2 separate regions of the Homo sapiens genome follow, and region 1 is linked to region 2. Evidence: fine-mapped expression QTL. A gene starts in region 2. The other region holds a variant in brackets. All regions are shown on one strand. Distances are from middle to middle. Region 1 overlaps PRUNE1 (prune exopolyphosphatase 1). Region 2 holds the start of PRUNE1 (prune exopolyphosphatase 1).

What was found. PIP is the estimated chance that this variant, and not a neighbour inherited with it, causes the effect.
Region 1: its variant is fine-mapped to the expression of PRUNE1 in whole blood (INTERVAL, PIP above 0.99).

Annotation. Positions count from the first base shown.
Region 1 is chr1:151,026,438-151,036,411 of GRCh38, forward strand. PRUNE1 (prune exopolyphosphatase 1) reads left to right here. Exons shown (of 8, transcript NM_021222.3): 6 at 796-890; 7 at 2,349-2,507; 8 at 7,369-9,276. The coding sequence ends at 7,797. Among named protein-coding and RNA genes, the nearest start is that of BNIPL, 5.2 kb to the right of the region's middle. The variant T/C (reference allele first, on the strand shown) is at 5,090.
Region 2 is chr1:151,002,886-151,012,859 of GRCh38, forward strand. It overlaps PRUNE1 (prune exopolyphosphatase 1), which reads left to right and starts at 5,564. Exons shown (of 8, transcript NM_021222.3): 1 at 5,564-5,786. The coding sequence starts at 5,748. It overlaps MINDY1 (MINDY lysine 48 deubiquitinase 1), which reads right to left and starts at 4,017. Exons shown (of 10, transcript NM_001376665.1): 1 at 3,427-4,017. RefSeq lists enhancers at 3,253-3,512, 3,743-3,922, 5,415-5,957, 5,958-6,498, 6,154-6,203.

The DNA.
Region 1 (9,974 bases), 24 kb after region 2:
ACGACAGCGAAACTCCGTCTCAAAAAAAAACAAAAAGAGCCTCATAGGTTCCAGTCTATTCAGAGAATACAGGACATATATATAAAATATGCTGAGAGTATACTAAATTATCAGAGTGAAATCTATAGAATTGGTTAGGGAGGCAAAAGAAATATTTTGTGAGTAAACAAAAGATGAAGAGAACCCAAAAAAAACTGTATTCTTGTACTCAGCTACCACCTGTTGACATAAAAAGGAAGAAAGAAAGAAAGAACTCACATGTAAACAGTATAGGAAGAGGGAAAGATAAAAAGTAAAAGCCTCTGTTCTGGGTTTCATCCTTCTCTCCAAAGTTACTTGCTCTAAAGGTACCTATTGTCACCAGTTATTTAAGATGGCTTTTGATTATGTGATTACATTTTCTTTCTTTCTTTTTTTTTTTTTTTTTTGAGACAGAGTCCAGGTTCAAGTGATTCTCCTGCTTCAGCCTCCTGAGTAGCTGGGATTACAAGTGCCCGCCACCACACCCAGCTAATTCTTTGTATTTTTAGTAGAGACAGAGTTTCATCATGTTGACCAGGCTGGTCCCAAACTCCTGACCTCAGGTGATCCGCCCACCTCAGCCTCCCAAAGTGCTGGGATTACAGGCCTGAGTCACCGCGCCCGGCTATGATTACATTTTCAATTATCTCCCCCATTCATTGCCCCAAAGAGAGGCTGTTTTTCCTTCCTTGACCCATCTGGCTGTCCTTGCCTTCTTGGTCTTGGGACCCTGGCCTACCCTGTTTGACCCCTAGTCTCTCATCTGCTTTCTAGGACTGACCACTGAGCAGATGCTGAGAAAAGACCAGAAGACTATCTATAGACAAGGCGTCAAGGTGGCCATTAGTGCAATATATATGGATTTGGAGGTAAGAGCAAGTTGTGGCTGTGGGTGGGGAGAGAAAGCCTTTAGCTATGCATGTTATGCATGTGGCCTTGCACCTCATTCCTGGCTCACCTCCAAAATGTATCTTGTGTCTATCTTTGTCTCTACCTCCACTGTGACCACCAGAGTCCAGCATCTCTCACTGCACCGCTGTATTAGCCTCAGTACTGGTGTCCCTGCCTCTGCTTTTGCAGCCCTACAAACCATTCTCCCCGCAGCAGCCAGAGTGGTCTTTTTTAATTTTTTTTTTTTTTTTTTAAGGGAGTCATGCTTTGTTGCCAGGCTAGAGTACAGTGGTACCATCATGGCTCACTGCAGCCTCAACCTTCCAGGCTCAAGCAATCCTCCCACCTTAGCCTCTCGAGTAGCTGGGTCCACAGGTGCACACCACCACACCTAACTAGTGTGTGTGTGTGTGTGTGTGTGTGTGTGTGTGTGCGCGCGCGTGTATGTATGTGTCGATGGGGTCTCACTATGTTGCCCAGGCTGGTCTCAAACTCCTGGCCTCAAGCAGTTCTCCTTTTGGCCTCCGAAGTTCTGGGATTATAGGCGTGAGCCACTGTGCCCGGCCTCATTGTATTTTTAATAAAATCTAAAGGACTTACTGTGGTTTACAGCGCCATGCTTGATCTGGCCCTTGTCTTTTTCTCTGGCCTCATCTCATTCCAGCTCCACTCCTGTTCTACAGTACTGCAGCCACACTGGTTTCTTTTCTGTTCCTCAGAACCATTAAGCTCATTCCCAGCTGAGCTTTTTTCTTTGTAAAGCTGGCTCCTTCTTAACATTCAGGTACTCAGCTCAGATGTCTCTTGTTTTGGGAGGTTTTTCCTGACCACCCTAACTGAAGTACTATCTCCTATGCTCAAAAAACCTCTAGCAGTTATGTATGTATGTTTGTTTGTTTGTTTGTTTTGAGCCTGAGTCTTATTCTGTTGCCCAGGATGGAGTGGAATGGCATGATCTCAGCTCACTGCAACCTCTGCCTCCCGGGTTCAAGTAATTCTCCTGCCTCAGCCTCCCTAGTAGCTGGGATTACTGGTGCGTGCCGGCATGCCCAGCTAATTTTTTGTTTTGTTTTGTTTTGTTTTTGTTTTTTGAGACGGAGTTTCGCTCTTGTCCCCCAGGCTGGAGTGCAATGGCGCAATCTCAGCTCACTGCAACTTCCGCCTCCCTGGTTCAAGCGATTCTCCTGCCTCAGCCTCCTGAGTAGCTGGGATTACAGGCATATGCCCCCATGCCCGGCTAATTTTTGTATTTTTACCAGAGACAGGGTTTCACCATGTTGGCTAGGCTGGTCTCGAACTCCTGACCTCAAGTGATCACCTGCCTCGGCCTCCCAAAGTGCTAGGATTATAGGCGTAAGCGACCGTGCCCGGCCCAAGGATGTTTTATTGATGATGATGAGAAAGTCCTTCATCCCTCTCCGTTTCTTCCCTTTCAGGCCTTTCTGCAGAGGTCTAACCTCCTTGCAGATCTCCATGCTTTCTGCCAGGCTCACAGCTATGATGTCCTGGTTGCCATGACTATCTTTTTCAACACTCACAATGAGCCAGTGCGGCAGTTGGCTATTTTCTGTCCCCATGTGGCACTCCAAACAACGGTGAGTCTGTGTCCCTTCTCCAACCTAAGAGCCTTACAGAGTCTGCCTGTATGTACCTCTGTGCTCTACAGCTGTCCTATAAGGACCTCTCTTAGGTTCTTATATTAATGTACTTACATGAGGTCCCTTGACCTGTTTCTGGACCTGTTTCCTCCCCTTTCTGCTTTTTCCCATTCTCTCTCTATATGAATATCCTTTTTTTTTTTTTAATGAACATCCTTAATCATAGCATTGTTGAGAAAGGGGGAATTCCAAAGAGAACTAGAGATTCAATTCCTACTTTGAAAGAACGAAATCTAGTTAGAAGGAAATGTTATAAATCCGGAGTTAAAATTCCCTTCTTGAGCTAGGGACAGTGGCACGTGCCTGTAGTCCCAGCAACTCGGGAGGCTGATGCAGAAGGATTGCTTAAGCTGGAAAGTTTTTTTTTTTTTTTTTTTTTTGAGACAGTCTTGTGCTGTTGCCCAGGCTGGGGTGCAGTGGCACAATCTCGGCTCACTGCAAGCTCTGCCTCCTGGGTTAACGCCATTGTCCTGCCTCAGCCTCCCGAGTAGCTGGGACTACAGGCGCCCGCCACCACGCCCGGCTAATTTTTTGTATTTTTAGTAGAGACGGGGTTTCACCGTGTTAGCCAGGATAGTCTCGATCTCCTGACCTCGTGATCCGCCCGCCTTGGCCTCCCAAAGTGCTGGGATTACAGGCGTGAGCCACCGCGCCCAGCCGAGCTGGAAAGTTTGAGTCCAGCCTGGGCAAAGATAGCAAGACCTCATCTCTGTTGGGGAAAAAAAAAAACAAAAACTCTATTCTTGGTTTAATCATTAATTCCTCACCCCTGGAATTATGCTGTTGCCTTGAAAATTAGAAATACGAGAGACCTTTTCTGCTACTTACTATGCAGGGATTAATTATTCTGTATAGTGCAAACTCTGTAAAGAAGTGATCTAGATCCAGATTTGGCTATCTTTCCTACTTCCTCCCCCTTCTGTTCCTCTGCTGGTTACTGATTAGCCTAGGGAAGAATTTAAAAGTGGGCTTAAGGCTGGGTGCGGTGGCTCACACCTGTAATCCCAGCACTTTGGGAAGCTGAGGCGGGCAGATCACGAGAGCAAGAGATCAAGACCATCCTGGCCAACATGGTGAAACCCCATCTCTTTTAAAAATACGGAAATTAGCTGGGCGTGGTGGTGCGTGCCTATAGTCCCAGCTACTCAGGAGGCTGAGGCAGGAGAATCTCTTGAACCTCGGCAAGCAGAGGTTGCAGTGAGCCGAGATTGCGCCACTGTACTCCATCCTGCCAACAGAGCAAGACTCCGTCTCCAAAAAAAAAAAAAAAAAAGGTGGGCTTAAGGCAGTTCAGGGATTCTGAGGGTTGCCTAGGCTCTGTGAGGACTGCTAAAGACAGAATACAGCCAGATAATCCTTTGCTCTCATAGAAGGTATGTCTGTCCTTTCCCGCCCCCCTTTGCCTTTGCCTTCTCCCCAGGAAGCAAATCTGATTTCATTCAGTGTAAGGTAGTTCGTCATTATGAAAAGAACTGCAGTTTTGTCTGTTTGTTTGTTTTTTAAGATGGAGTCTCACTCTGTCGCCCAGGCTTGAGTACAGTGGTGTGATCTTGGCTCACTGCAACCGCCACCTCCCAGGTTCAGTCAGTTCTCCCACCTCAGCCTGTAGCTGGGACTACAGGCGCCTGCCACCATGCCTGACTAATTTTTGTATTTTTAGTAGAGATGGGGTTTCACCATGTTAGCCAGGCAGGTCTCGAACTCCTGACCTCAAGTGATCCACCTGCCTTGGCCTTCCGAAGTGCTGGAATTACAAGCCTGAGCCACTGCACCTGGCCAAGAACTGCAGTTTTTAAAGTCAGGTAGATGTGCTTTTCTGTTCTAGGTTTGCCTCTTACTCACTCTTTGAGCTAAGGCAAGTCAGTTGACTTCTGCATCTGGAAATGGCATAATAGTACCTACTGCTAATTCTGCTATGATCATTAAACGTAATATCATGTGTAAAGCACACTCCTGGAGCAGAGTAAGCACTTTGTAAATAGTGGCTCTTACTAATCCTGTCAGTAAGAAAAGGGTGCTTTGGCCATTAGAAGTACCTCTTCCACGTTCCTGAATCTTCTCCCCTCTGTGCTGCTCTTTTAAAGCTGTGTGGATTTCTAATGACTCTACCATTGTCTAGGTTGCCCCTATGCTTGGAAACAGGAGTCCTTCTCTCTCTGTTTTGTTTTTGTGTGTGTGTGTGTGTGTTTTTTTTTTTTTTTGAGATGTCTCACTCTGTTGACCAGGCTGGAGTGGTACAATGGCACTATCTCAGCTCACTGCAACCTCTGCCTCCCGGGTTCAAGCAATCCTCCCAGCCTCCCAAGTAGCTGCGGCTACAGGCACACCACCATGGCTAGCTAATTTTTTTTGTATTTTTTGTAGGGACAGAGTCTCGCTATGTTGCCCAGGCTGGTCTCGAACTCCTGGACTCAAGTGATCCACCAGCCTCAGCTTCCCAGAGTTCTGGAATTGCAGGTGTGGGCCACTATGCCCAGCCAGGAGTCCTTTTCTTACAGTCTACTCTACCATCTCCTCTC[T/C]TTCTCCTATGTTAGGGGTAGTATAATATATTGATTTAGAACACTGGCTTTGGTGACAGCTCTGGGCTCAGTGTCAGTTTTGCTTCATGCAAATTATGACCTTAGGCAAGTTACCTGATCATTGAAGCCTCAGTTTCCCTGCATGTAAGTGAGGGTAATAGTGATACCAGTCTTATTTTGTTCAATTCATTCTTTCTTCCTCCATCCCTCTTCTGGCCTCTAGATAAATTCTAGTTCCATCCTAGTTCAAGTTCTTGAGCACATTTATACACTTGGAAACGACACTAGATTAGAAGCTGGGGTTCCTCGGTTCTGGTTTAACTGCCATCATCTGCATGATTTTACTCACAACCATCTTACTTCGCTTTAGTTACTTTAATAATAAAATGAAATATACAATCTAAACTGTTTCCTCTGTTTTTAAAATACTGTGTATGGCTGGGTATGGTAGCTCATGCCTGTAATCCCAGAACTTTGGGAGGCTGAGCTGGGCAGATCACCTGAGCTCAGGAGTTTGAGACCAGCCTGGCCAATATGGCGAAACCCCGTCTCTACTAAAAATACAAAAATTAGCTGGGCATGATGGCAGGTGCCTGTAATCCCAGCTACTCAGGAGGCTGAAGCAAGAGAATTGCTTGAATCTGGGAGGCGAAGGTTGCAGTGAGCTAAGATCGTGCCACTGTACTCCAGCCTGGGTAACAGAGCAAGAATCCATTTCAAAAAAAAAAAAATTAAAGTAAAATAAAATAAATAAAACACTGTGTATGAATCCCAGCACTTTCGGAGGCTGAAGCAGGAGGATTGCTTGAGACCAGGATTTGGAGACCAGCCTGGGCAACATAGCAAGACCCCATCCCTAGTCTATTAAATAAAAAATACAAAATACTAAAATAAAATACTGTGGGCCAGGCTTGGTGGCTCACACCTGTAATCCTAGCACTTTGGGAGGCCGAGGCGAGAGCGGATGACCTGAGGGCAGGAGTTCGAGACCAGCCTGGCTAACATGGTGTAACCCCGTCTCCACTAAAAATACAAACATTAGCCAGGCTGGGTGACACATGCCTGTAGTCCCAGCTACATGGGAGGCTGAGGCAGGAGATTCACTTGAACCGGGGAGGCAGAGGTTGTACTGAACTGAGATTGCACCACTGCACTCCAGCCTGGGCGACAGAGCAAGACTCTGTCTCAAAAAAAAAAAAAAATACTGTGTATATTAGTGTTCCTTCTGTTGCAAACAATAAAACCGAACTCTGGACAACTTACTTTTTTTCTTGTCTTGCTTTATTGCCCAGGCTGGAGTGCAATGGTGAGATCTCGGCTCACTGCAACCTCCGCCTCCCAGGTTCAAATGATTCTCCTATCTCAGCCTCCCAAGTAGCTGGGATTACAGGTGTGAACCACCATGTCTGGCTAATTTTTGTATTTTTCGTAGAGATGGGGTTTCAGCATGTTGACAAGGCTGTTCTCGAATTCCTGACCTCAGGTGATCCGCCCACCTTGGCCTCCCAAAGTGCTGGGATTACAGGCGTGAGCCACTGTGCCCGGCCTCAAGGATAACTTACTTTTTTTTTTTTTTGAGACGGAGTTTCGCTCTTGTTGCCCAGGCTGGAGTGCAGTGGCACCATCTTGGCTCACTGCAACTTCTGTCTCCTGGGTTCAAGTGATTCTCCTGCCTCAGCCTCCCAAGTAGCTGGGATTACAGGCATGCGCCATCATGCCTGGCTAATTTTGTATTTTTAGTAGAGATGGGGTTTCTCCATGATGGTCAGGCTGGTCTCAAACTCCCGACCTCAGGTGATCGGCCCCCTTTAGCCTCCCAAAGTGCTGGGATTACAGGCGTGAGCCACCGCGCCCGGCTGACTTACTTTTTTTTTTTTTTTTTGAGATGCAGTGTTGCTCTGTCGCCCAGGCTGGAGTGCAGTGGCGCGATCTCCGCTCACTGCAAGCTCCGCCTCCTGGGTTCACGCCATTCTCCTGCCTCAGCCTCCCGAGTAGCTGGGACTACAGGCACCCGCCACCATGCCCGGCTAATTTTTTGTATTTTTAGTAGAGACGGGGTTTCACTGTGTTAGCCAGGATGGTCTCAATCTCCTGACCTCATGATCCACCCGCCTCGGCCTCCCAAAGTGCTGGGATTGCAAGCGTGAGCCACCGCACCCCGCCCGGCCGACTTACTTTTTAAAAGCTTCCTCTTCTATAGAGGAAGCCTCTCACTTAGAAGCCCAGCACTTTGCTACAGCAAGTTGTGTATCATTTCCCTGTTATTGTCTCCTCTTTAGATCTGTGAAGTCCTGGAACGCTCCCACTCTCCACCCCTGAAGCTGACCCCTGCCTCAAGTACCCACCCTAACCTCCATGCCTATCTTCAAGGCAACACCCAGGTCTCTCGAAAGAAACTTCTGCCCCTGCTCCAGGAAGCCCTGTCAGCATATTTTGACTCCATGAAGATCCCTTCAGGACAGCCTGAGACAGCAGATGTGTCCAGGGAGCAAGTGGACAAGGAATTGGACAGGGCAAGTAACTCCCTGATTTCTGGCCTGAGTCAAGATGAGGAGGACCCTCCGCTGCCCCCGACGCCCATGAACAGCTTGGTGGATGAGTGCCCTCTAGATCAGGGGCTGCCTAAACTCTCTGCTGAGGCCGTCTTCGAGAAGTGCAGTCAGATCTCACTGTCACAGTCTACCACAGCCTCCCTGTCCAAGAAGTGACTGTTGAGAGGCGAGGAGGTAGTGGGTGAGGCTACCTGACTCACTTCAAATGCATGTTTTGAGATGTTTGGAGATTCAGCAATTCTGTCTTCATTGCTCCAGGATCTGGTATACTGTTCTCATAAAACTGAGAGGAGAAAAAAAGTGAAAGAAAGCAGCTGCTTTAAGAATGGTTTTCCACCTTTTCCCCCTAATCTCTACCAATCAGACACATTTTATTATTTAAATCTGCACCTCTCTCTATTTTATTTGCCAGGGGCACGATGTGACATATCTGCAGTCCCAGCACAGTGGGACAAAAAGAATTTAGACCCCAAAAGTGTCCTCGGCATGGATCTTGAACAGAACCAGTATCTGTCATGGAACTGAACATTCATCGATGGTCTCCATGTATTCATTTATTCACTTGTTCATTCAAGTATTTATTGAATACCTGCCTCAAGCTAGAGAGAAAAGAGAGTGCGCTTTGGAAATTTATTCCAGTTTTCAGCCTACAGCAGATTATCAGCTCGGTGACTTTTCTTTCTGCCACCATTTAGGTGATGGTGTTTGATTCAGAGATGGCTGAATTTCTATTCTTAGCTTATTGTGACTGTTTCAGATCTAGTTTGGGAACAGATTAGAGGCCATTGTCTTCTGTCCTGATCAGGTGGCCTGGCTGTTTCTTTGGATCCCTCTGTCCCAGAGCCACCCAGAACCCTGACTCTTGAGAATCAAGAAAACACCCAGAAAGGCCTTAATGACCTCATAGGCACTCTTCCAAAAAGACAACAGAACTGGAATGAGAGGCCTGGGTCTGTCTCCTGCCTTAGCAGGCCTATCAATTTCTTGTCAATCTCTTTTTTTCCTTGCTCACATTAAAAGGAAGCATGGAGTTCTAATGCTCCCATAAACTATGTATTTTGGCAAGACACTTCACTACTCCAGGTCTCACTTTCCCCATCTGTAAAACAGGGTTTGGACTAGGTGTTCCCTGGTATTCTGTGATCTGCCTCTTGCTGCCATTCTTTCTCTCCTCTGCTTCTCTGTATTTTTCTTCTGTTATCCCTGGGGGTGCTCAGGTTCACTTGATTGTCTGTATTTCTGTGTGGTTGTAGCAAGGACTCAGCCTCATGTAGCACGAATAGGGGTGTGGTTCATGGCGTGTTGACCCAGCAGAGCACTCCCTCCCACTAACTTGTTCTGCATGTGTAGAGTCTCCCCATTTTTTTTAACGCAACCCTTTCCCCTTTTTCCTACCCCACAGCTCTGTTCCATGTAAGTTGCCAACAGTTTCACTGAACAGTGGGGTATGTGATGGTTTTGGCATGACATCTTCAGTATGAGGGGGACAGTTTGACTTCACTTTGAGGGTGTGATGTCTGTAGCTATGTGGAAGGTAAAAATAGTGGTGTGATCATGAACCAAAGGAATTTATGTTTTGTAACTTGGGTACTTTATTTTGCATTTTGTTATACTATTAAATAATTTTTTCCTGTTTGGGGGTCTTACTGTCTTTTTTTACAAGTGTATTCAGGCCTTTCTCTGTGATAGTTGTTTCAGTCTCCTCAAAATTGATCCCCCTTCTTCCTACTATACTTAATGTCTTCTTTCTGTTGACTCTTTTTGGGAATAAGGAGCAACAGGCTTCTGTCTCCCCTCATCCTCAGCCTCCCGTTCAACTTGTTTATTCTCCCAGAAACCTCCTTATAACATACTTCCGTTTCCCCAGTTTTCCTTATGCTTGAAAAGTAGATCCAAGATAACAGTCCTAGAAACACACACAATGGTTTCTTTTTCTTTTTTTTTTTTTTTTTGAGATGGAGTTTTGCTCTTTTTGCCCTGGCTGGAGTGCAATGGCACAATCTCAGCCCACTACAACCTCTGCCTCCCAGGTTCAAGCGATTCTCCTGCCTCAGCCTCCCAAGTAGCTGGGATTATAGGCATGTGTCACCACGCCCAGATAATTTTTTTTTTTTTTTTTTTTTTTTTTTTTTTTTGGATTTTTAGTAGAGATGGGGTTTCTCCACATTGGTCAGGCTGGTCTCAAACTCCCGACCTCAGGTGATCCGCCTGCCTTGGCCTCCCAAAGTGTTGGGATTACAGGTGTGAGCCACCACGCCCGGCCAGAAACACAACGGTTTCTACTGGTTTTTTTGCTTATTTGTGTAAAGAGCAACTTTGAGAGGGATATATGG
Region 2 (9,974 bases):
CAGATGAGACCAAGAGGTCGTGGGGCTTCCAGACTTGGGAGGGAAGACTGGTGGGATTGAACACATGGGTGGAGTCAGCTTCCCTGAAACAGATCATGACAGGGAAGGGAGGAAAGACAGAGAGAAAGGGAGAGCACAAAGGAGAAAGAAGGATAAGAGGTGGAGAAAGAAATGTTAAATCTACGCTAATGGTTATTAATATGATGATCTTTAGCTTACTCTAATAGGCATCACATCAGTAACCCCCTCATAGCCATGACAGAGATAATTCCTCTGCCCTACCCCACACCCTGCCCCTTCACACAACATACTAAGAATACACAGTGCTTGTATGTTTAGGGATACCTTCTCTCTGCCTCACCCAAGGATAAAAAGATTAAGTCACATAGTACTTGGGGTGAAGAATGGAGGAGGCACAGAGAGTCAGTTTCATGCCCCTAAAGGTGAAATGCTGGTGAGGAAGGGGAAGTCTTCCACCTCAAAGGGCTCTACTGAACCTTACACAATCCCAAACCACAGTATAAAGGCCTTGGGAGGGGTTTCCTGTAAGCTGGGAGGGGAAATGTAGGTGGTGGGGGCTGGAATCAGAGACTGGTTTTGATAAATAACTTCAGATTAGGGGCACAAAAAGCACTCCCCACAAGTTCTTCCAGTAAGCTTCTCTTTAAAAAAAATTAATAAAGATATCAAATTTCTTTTAATTAAACTGAGACAGGGTCTTGCTTTGTTGCCTAGGCTGGTCTTAACTCCTGGGGGCCCAAGCAATCCGCCCTCCTCAGCCTGCCAAAGGACTGGGATTACAGGCATGAGCCACGGTGCCTGGACCCAGTAAGCATCTCTTGACAGCTAGCATTGAGACAGCAACTTTTCCTCAGTTCATTTTTTTTCCCCAGAAACTACCTAAACCCAGAGGTACTCTCTTGCCTGCTATTTCTATGAAATATGAAAATGCTGATTATTAATTTACATAACAATACTTCCTGTACATTCACCTACCTAAAGTTTTATGTCTATTCCCATCCAAGTGGTTTTATTTATTTATTTTTATTTTTTTGAGACAGAGTTTTGCTCTTGTTGCCTAGGTTGGAGTGCAATGGTGCGACCTCGGCTCACTGCAACCTCTGCCTCCTGGGTTCAAGTGATTCTCCTGCCTCAGCCTCCCGAGTAGCTGGGATTACAGGCATGCAACACCATGCCCAGCTAATTTTGTATTTTTTAGTAGAGATGGAGTTTCTCCATGTTGGTCAGGCTGGTCTTGAACTTCCGACCTCAGGTGATCCTCCCACCTTGGCCTCCCAAAGTGCTGGGATTACAGGCATGAGCCACCGTGCCCAGTCCTCTCCAGGTCATTTTAGATGTGAACACCGGACCTGTTTAACCTGTTCTCTATCAGCACTGGAGGCACATTGAGGCAAGCACAGATAGACATTTAACTAATACTGTGGGTATAAATAATAAAAAACCACAAATCCTGCCCTTTGGAAAACATCTCCCTTCAATCTCCTTGCTCCCCTCCCACTCTTTATCAGGGAGAGAAACAGGGAGAAATTAAACTAGTTAGGGGCCAGGCGCGGTGGCTCACGCCTGTAATCCCAGCACTTTGAGAGGCTGAGGCGGGCAGATTACTTGAGGTCAGGAGATCGAGACCATCCTGGCTAACATGGCAAAACGCTGTCTGTATTGAAAGTACAAAAATTAGCCAGGTGTGTTGGCACGTGCCTGTAGTCACAGCTGCTCGGGAGGCTGAGGTGGGAGAATTGCTTGAACCTGGGAGGCAGGGGGTTGCAGTGAGCTGAGATGGTGACACTGCACTACAGCCTGGGTGACAGAGCGAAACTCCATCTCAAAAATAAAATAAAATAAAATAAAATAAAATAAAATAAAATAAAATAAAATAAAATAAATTAAACTAGTTAGAAATCTTGTCTTTTCTCCACCCTCCTCCCAGCCTGAGACTGCTTCCTTCTTGTAAACCTACAGGAATTTGGGGCTAGGGGAAGGCCTGGGAGATGAGGTTGAGGAACATTAAAGTTACTGAAACAAAATAAGCCTAGTCACTCAAATTGATTATCCTCTTGATTCACATATGTTTATGCTAGCTGCATATCATTTACGTGTTGTTAATTTAGAATCAGAGTAGCAAAAATTGCCTGCAGGCCTTATGCTTTTTTTTCTCTCTCTTTCTCTCTCTCCTTTCCTTCTCCCCTTAAATGACACTTAGGGTGAACCTCAAAGCAGATGCCAGAGCCTGGAAAAGTGAAAAAGCTTGAAGAAAAGCAGGCCTTGGCCGGGCACAGTGCCTCACACCTGTATCCCAGCACTTTGAGAGGCCGAGGCGGGCGGATCACCTGAGGTCAGGAGCTCAAGATCGGCCTGGCTAACATGGCGAAACCCCATCTCTACTAAAAATACAAAAATTAGCCGGGCACGGTGGCGGGCACCTGTAATCCCAGCTACTCAGGAGGCTGAGGCAGGAGAATTGCTTGAACCCCGGAGGTGGAGGTTGCAGTAAGCCAAGATTGTGCCTCTGCACTCCAGCCTGGGTGACAAGAGTGAGACTCTTGCCTCCAAAAAAAAAAAGAAAAAAAGAAAAAAAAAAAAGAAAAGCAGGCCTTATTTTTTATATTTTCTCTCCAGTGCCAGAAATGATCAATGATGAAGTGGGGGTTGGGCAGCTAGCTGGCTGGAGAGGTGAGCCAAAGGAACCCAGGAGTGGACACCTGAGGGAGTGGGGTCTCAGAGGAACTGGGCAGAGCTAAATGGGCTAAGTCTTAAGAGGCAGGGGCAGGAAATGTAATGGAGGCTTTCTACTCTACAACGTCCAATCCTGCTGGGGAGGGCATGGAGTATTTCAGAGTAGGAAAGAATGAGGGAGAGGATAGTCAGATAAATCAAAGTTTCATTCTTTTCCTCCTCTTTCTTAGCTCGTCAAATCCTACACTTTCTCTCCAGCTGGAATTATGGTGGTGAGTGAGGGAGTTAAAATAATCCTGGCTCCTCCCTAATCAATGGCAGTAGAGAGCCGAAAGTTGGAAGAAGCACGTAAAACAGGTATGTAGCTTCAAGAAGACACTCCTTCTCTGTAGGAACAGTTCCCTTACTGTCTCACACCAATCTCCTTCTTAGTCTGACCTATGTCTTTGTGCAATCAATAGTTTAGATTTTCATCTCAGAATATGTCAACCATGGCCACAGTGCCCTGTATACTTGCTCACAAGGAGAGGGGGAAGGTTTCGTGCTTTCATTAAAAGGAGGAGGACCAAGCAGCATCCCCTTTACATGTCTCTCCTGACTTAGCTCCTCTAAGCAATCCAGACTTGCAGACCAAAGGTGGAAGGACAGCAGGTGTCAGCTCCCCAAAGCTGGAGAGGAAATAGAGAAGGGTGGGAGAAGAGGTGAAGAAGATGATTAAAATAAAGTTTTTACCTTAAAGAAGGGGGTGCTGTTCCAAGATTGAGAAGGAGGGTTCAGCCGTGGCAATGAGATGGGGGAGATAGGTGCAATGAAGGGGGCTGCCAGTGCCAGCTGCCTTCCAGCTGTCAACGCCTGAGCTTATACAGGTTTACACAGCTTTATAAGCGACGGTCCAGGCTGGGTTGTGGCCACTTCCGGACTCACGCCCAGTACTGGGGGCACTGGAGGAGGGTGAAGGCAGGCAGGGACACAGCCAAGGTGCTCCAGGTCGCTCAGAGAGTCTTCAGGATTCCTGAGTCGCCGAGTCTATGGCATGCGCTCCGGGCCCTGACTACAAGCTGGTTTTCAAAGGAAGTTTGTGGTTTTTCTTTTCTTCTCTCTCTCTTTTTTGTTCTCATCAGGACGAAGAAAAATTAGGCAAGGACAAGCTCCCTGGAGGAGGAGGGGCCTGCCCAGCGCTGGTGGATTTCCATCAGGACTTTCTGACCCGGTCAGCAGCTTTGTGATCAGCAGAGAGGGAGCGAGAAACAGGAGAGAAAAACAACAGACCCTTTCTCTTCCCTCTGCCTGCCTCTAGAAGGGACGGAGCGCTTGTGCCTCTCTGGTGAGAATAGGGAAGAGCAAGTGCCCTTGCTAAGTAGGGAGGAGAAGGGCTGGACAGAAGCAGCTTGTTGGATCTGGGCTCTCTCTCTGGGTATGGCAGTCCTTTGCTCTGGATCCACAGAAGCAGGAGCAAAGAGCACGATATTTGCATGTATTACTCAATTAATGTTAAAAACAAACAAACAAACCCAGCTCTTTTCCCTCTGGAGCCCTCCAGAGAGCTCCTTTCCAAGTCCTTGCTGTATCATTTTTAAGTCTAGAAATGAAACTGGTTGGGTTGTGCACCTGGTAGAGTGCAGAGGGTGTGGTAGAAGCCCCAGGCTCTGGGCGCGATGGCTGACGCCTGTAATCCCAGCACTTTGGGAAGCCAAGGCGGGCGGATCACAAGGTCAAGAGATCAAGACCAACCTGGCCAACATAGTGAAACCCCATCTCTACTAAAAATACAAAAATTAGCAGGGCATGGTGGCACATGCCTGTAGTCCCAGCTACTCGGGAGGCTGAGGCAGGAGAATCGCTTGAACCCGGGAGGTGGAGGTTGCAGTGAGCCAAGATCCTGCCACTGCACTCCAGCCTGAAGACGGAGCAAGACTCCGTCTCAAAAAGAAGAAGAAGAAGAAAAGAACTGGCAGAGCAGGCAGGAGATCCAACACGCCTGTGCTCTGGATCTTGGTTCCACTGCAGGCCTCTCATCAGTCACCTCCTCTCGATTTACAGCTGGGGAAGCAGGAAAAGCTGGTGTGAGGCTGACGGTAGGAAATAAAGGGATAGATAAATAAATGAGGGAATTTTTGATGATGAGTGTCCATTTATTTGCAGTACCTGCACTACTCTGCGGCTGGAAAGTGGCAGTTAAGGGAGGTTGGAACCTAACTCCACATTCTGAAGGGTTCCCTAAACTCTATGTACAGGGCCGCCACAGGATGAAATTTCAAGCAACTCTAAAGGCTGAAAGAGCAATTGGAACAATTAGGGTGGCAGAGAGCAAAAAGCCAAGGTTACAACCGTCCAAGAAAGGAAGAAGATATTTGCCGAGGCTGTAGAAAAAAACAGGCTACAGAGTTGCAAAGGGAGAAGCAGCAGGAGTTGGCAGGAGACTGTAGGTGTTAACAAGAGGGGTCAAAGATTATTCTAATGTTCTCCTAACATGAACAACCACAAAATTGGTGGCGACTGAGTCAGTTTGGTAAAGGGCAGAATTTGTAGAAAGAAGATGATCTGTTTTGCCAAGTGTCATTTAAAATGTCACCAGATGCTCGGTGTGATATATGTAAAGATGTTATACTTGGCCTGATCTGAGAGGGAAAGTTCAGATGCCACAATAATGGGTTACTGTGACACATACACATTTGTTTACCGAACGACTGATCCCTCAGAAAACAATCCTTCCCTCGGTTGCTAGGGACATTGCGGAGTTGCGGGACTACGTTTCCCACGTCGCCCCACGCCACGCCCCCTTGGCCTCGCCGGAAAGACGTCCCAGGAGCCTCTGGGCGTAGAGCCCCGCCTCCGCCGCTGGGGGCGGGGCGACGCCGGACTCCGGAGCGCCCGCTTACGCAGTTCCTCCCGGGGTCGGAGGCCGATTCGCCGTGTGGCGGGTTCGAGTCCCGCCTCCTGACTCTGGCCTCTAGTCCCTGAGTCCCGGGCGGGCTGCATTCGTCGGGGAAACCTCTCCTCGACCAGGGGCACCTCTACTCGACCAGGGGCGACGGCGTACTTTGGGCTTCATCATGGAGGACTACCTGCAGGGTTGTCGAGCTGCTCTGCAGGTAACGAATCCCTGTCTGTGACTGTAAGGAATGGAGCACGGGGTCCAGGAAGGACGAAGACGTGGGATCTGGGGGAGCCTCGACGGTCCGTGTGGAGGGAACACTGAGTTGTGGGGAGGGGGGTTGGGGCCTGATCAGTTTTGGGGCATGAGGAGCGAGGAGCGAGAAGCCAGTTTAGGAGCGTGAGAATGCTGCTTGTTCAGTCTCCCGGTTTTTGGCTCCCCGCCTTTGGGGTCCGCCTGAGAGCGGGGAGAAGTCTTGGGTCTGAATCCTGCATTTGAGCCTCTGCTTGCTGTCATCTTGGTCAGTTCCATCAAAAAAACCAGGACTGTGCCGCCGCCAGCCTAGCCCCGCGAGGTGTGTTTATTCTTTTCTCCCCGCCCCTCTTTGAGTTCTCCGCTCCCAAGGCTTCGCTTGGCCCACTGGCCTCCAGGTGAACCTCGGGGGTGTGGAGGGAACCGGTGCTCACGGCCTTATTTCCTCCGAATGGCAGTTTCTGTCTGGCGGGCTGAACTCATTTCTAGGTTAGAAGTAGTCACAGTATTTTACTTTAAGTCAGTGTTTTTAAGCCAAACATACAAAATCCATCAGGCATATTTGTTGACCCACAACCAGCATTCCTTTGCCTCCAGGTTTCTCCTTTGGCCTTAACGCACACAAATGACATAAAAATTCTCCACTTGGAAGGGATAAGCACAAAGTGTGTTTGGAATCAAAACCATAAATATGACTACTCAATGCTTTGTGGCTTATTTTTGGTGCTCTCTGACTCAGTTGGACTCACCCAGCCATGCTGAGCCGTCATGAGGCATTAGGCTGTTATCCCCAGTTAGCAGCAAAAAGCTAACCAGAGACAGGCTCCAGGAGGTCACCCGGCCCCTCTACTTTGAGTTATACTGCCCTGAAGAAACCTAGATAGATGGCTTGCTGAGCTTTCCTTTTTAGATATCTTAAACTCTACAAATTCCCCTGAGGGACAGATTCTGGTCTTTAACAAATCCTGAAAGTCACTAATTCCTGCTGCAGACTCAGCTGCTGGAATAAATGAATTGTCTTCATATTGAATTGGGGAGAAGGTCCATTTTAACACCAATTACATAGACATTTTCCTTGTGAAAAACAAATTTGGGGAGTTATTTCAATGCATAAGGCCATTTGGAACCAATCCCTTTTTGTTACCTCTGAGTCCACCACAGGGCGCTTATTGGAGGACTAATGTAGAGTTTTTGGGGCACCGTTCTAAGTGCTAAACAGTTGGATTTTACCCCCCAGTAACCCAAATGACTGGTCTCTTCCACCATTTGGTAAAGTGCCCTTGGACCTGAAACCTCACCAAATAGTATTTCTTTGCATGCATCTACTCTCCAGCATATATCCTCCAGAGCCTCCCCCGACCCCCAGGTTAGTAGTATATTCTCTATTTTTATTTTGTATTTGTTTATTTATTTTCAGCCAGGGTCTCACTCTGTTGCCCTGGCTGGAGTGCAATGGTGTGATCACCTCCCCGGCTCAAGTGATCCTCCCACCTCAGCCTCCCGAAAAAGCTGCGACTATAGGCAGTGCCACCACGCAGGGCTAATTTTTTGTATTTTTATAGAGACAGGGTCTCGCCATGCTGCCCAATCTGGTTTCAAACTCCTGGACTCAAACAATCCCCCTGGCTTGGCTTCCCAAGGTGTTGGAATTACAGGTGTTAGCCACTGTACCCAGCCCGAATAGTATATTCTCTACAGCAATATGAAGCTGGAAAAATACTTGATTTTTCCAATACTGCTGGCATCTCGACCTTTCTCTCCCTGCATTCATCCCCCAAGGAGCAAGATCTAGATCTTCCTTTCAAACTTGTGAACTTGTGAAAGGTGAGATTGTGTCTTAGAGCTTGCATCATCACATAGCCTCTCCAGGGCCTGGAGAAATGAGAAAATTAGACTCTAGGAAGGTTAACAGGGGAACTGATGGCAAGACATACTGGTAGATGCCAACAATTTAAATTGCTTTAATTTTTTTTTTTTTTTTTTTGAGATAGACTCACTCTGTCGCCCAGGCTGGAGTAGGCTCACTGCAACCTCCACTTCCCGAATTCAAGCGATTCTTCTGCCTCAGCCTCCTGAGTAGCTGGGATTACAAGTGTGCGCCACTATGCCTGGCTAAGTTTTGTATTTTTAGTAGAGACAGGGTGTCACCATGTTGGACAGGCTGGTCTTGAACTCCTGACCTCAAGTGATATGCCTGCCTTGGTCTCCCAAAGTGCTGGGATTATAGGCATGAGCCACCACACCCAGCCTAGATTGCTTTAAATTATAGAAGTAGTAAATGTGTATTTCATGAACAAATTTAAATACCAAAGGGATATGAAATGAAAAAGATAAAGATCATTTTTCTTTTCTCCTCTCCATCCAGTTCTCCAGAGGACACCGTTAAGTTTCTTGTGTAAAGAGAGAGAGGTGATTTAGACAGATACACTCTTAAGTTTGAATGTTTCTGTTAAACTACAGTTTAATTATAACTTTCAGAAAATCATGAATGCTCCTCTTTGTGCAGGATAAAGACAGCTGGTAATCCAGCCAAGTCTCCCGTTGCTACCATATTTTTAGTATTTGATACCACAGAAATTTTCTATAGCCTCTGCCACAGAGACAATAGGATGTTCCATTAAAAAAAAATCATTTAACCAAATGTCCTATTTATGGTGACTCATCTTTCACTTCTGAGGGGAGAAATCTTTGCTTCAGGGTGGGGCTGCATTGCAGTTTAGGTGTTCATCCAGGACCCCTTGGATAATGTAGTGTGTGCAGTTCTCAGGCATGAGGCAGGAATCAGGAGCTGGCTCTCCTTAGAAATTTGCAGTCCTGGCATCAGTATTGTTCCTGTTTTCTCTGCTGAGAGGGTTTGTCTCTCTCTGGCTTTCTGTCTCGTTTATTTTTCTCCCCCATTAACTATTCTGAAGAGTAGTTATCATACCATATTCAGCTTTAGAAGGGAAGTGGTTTACTTTGCCAGGCCTAGAATCCCCTCCCTGCCCCCTCCTCTTGAGGCCACAAAGAACATATCAGGATAAGAGAGTCATTTCAACTAGTGGGTGTTTATTCATTTATTTATTTTAATTAATTAATTTTTTTTTTTTTTGAGACAAAGTCTCGCTCTGTCACCAGGCTGGAGTACAGTTGCATGATCTCGGCTCACTGCAACCTCCGCCTGCCAGGTTCAAGTGATTTTCCTGCCTCAGCCTCCCGAGTAGCTGGGACTACAGGCATGTGCCACCATGCCCAGCTAATTTTTGTATTTTTAGTAGAAACGGGGTTTCACCATGTTGGCCAGGATGGTCTCAATCTCTTGACCTCGTGGTCGGCCCACCTCGGCCTCCCAAAGTGCTGGGATTACAGGCGTGAGCCACCGTGCCTGGCCAACTAGTGGGTCTTTAAAAAAAAGAAAAAAGAAAAAAAGTTTGTATTTATTTACTTGTGGCCCTCAGATTGTATTTTTTCCATTGGCAGCTTAGATTTCCTCATGCTGCTAAGTATAGCTGTATTTTCCCTGAACTCTTTCTCTGATGGTCAGAAAACTGAGGCTGTTTGGCTTGTGCTTTCAGCTGGTGGAGGATGGGCTTGGAATTAGGGGTTACACATGTTTTTCTTAAATAAAGAAGAGAATGATGTCTTATAAGTTGGGCAGCCCCACACACGGTTTGCCCAGGGCAGTCTTGGTTTTCCCCTGTGTAATCATTAATAGCACCCCTTTTCATTCTCATAAGCGTCCCAGTTTGAACAATCAAATATATAGTCACCCACCACATAAGCCATGTTAAGGATCAGGGATACATGACCATGAAAAGACAGGGAGCTCCTTAAGATAGAAGTTAAGGTCTGTCTCAGAGCCACAAGTGCTAGAAGCTGGAGGTTTAGAGGAAGAGGATTTCTCTGGGCTGGGTGTTCAGGAAGGCTTCACAGAGAAAGACATTAGGTAGACTTGAACAACGGGGAGAAGTAAAGAAAGAAGATGGGAGATCACATCTTTACTATTTACAGCGTAGGCACTTATGGTACTATCTCATTTAATCCTCCTAACAACATCATGAAATTGGTTACGATATTATTCTCATTTTTTTTGTTTGTTTTTTTGAGATGGAGTCTCACACTGTCACCCAGGCTGGAGTGCAATGGTGGGATCTCGGCTCACTGCAACCTCCGC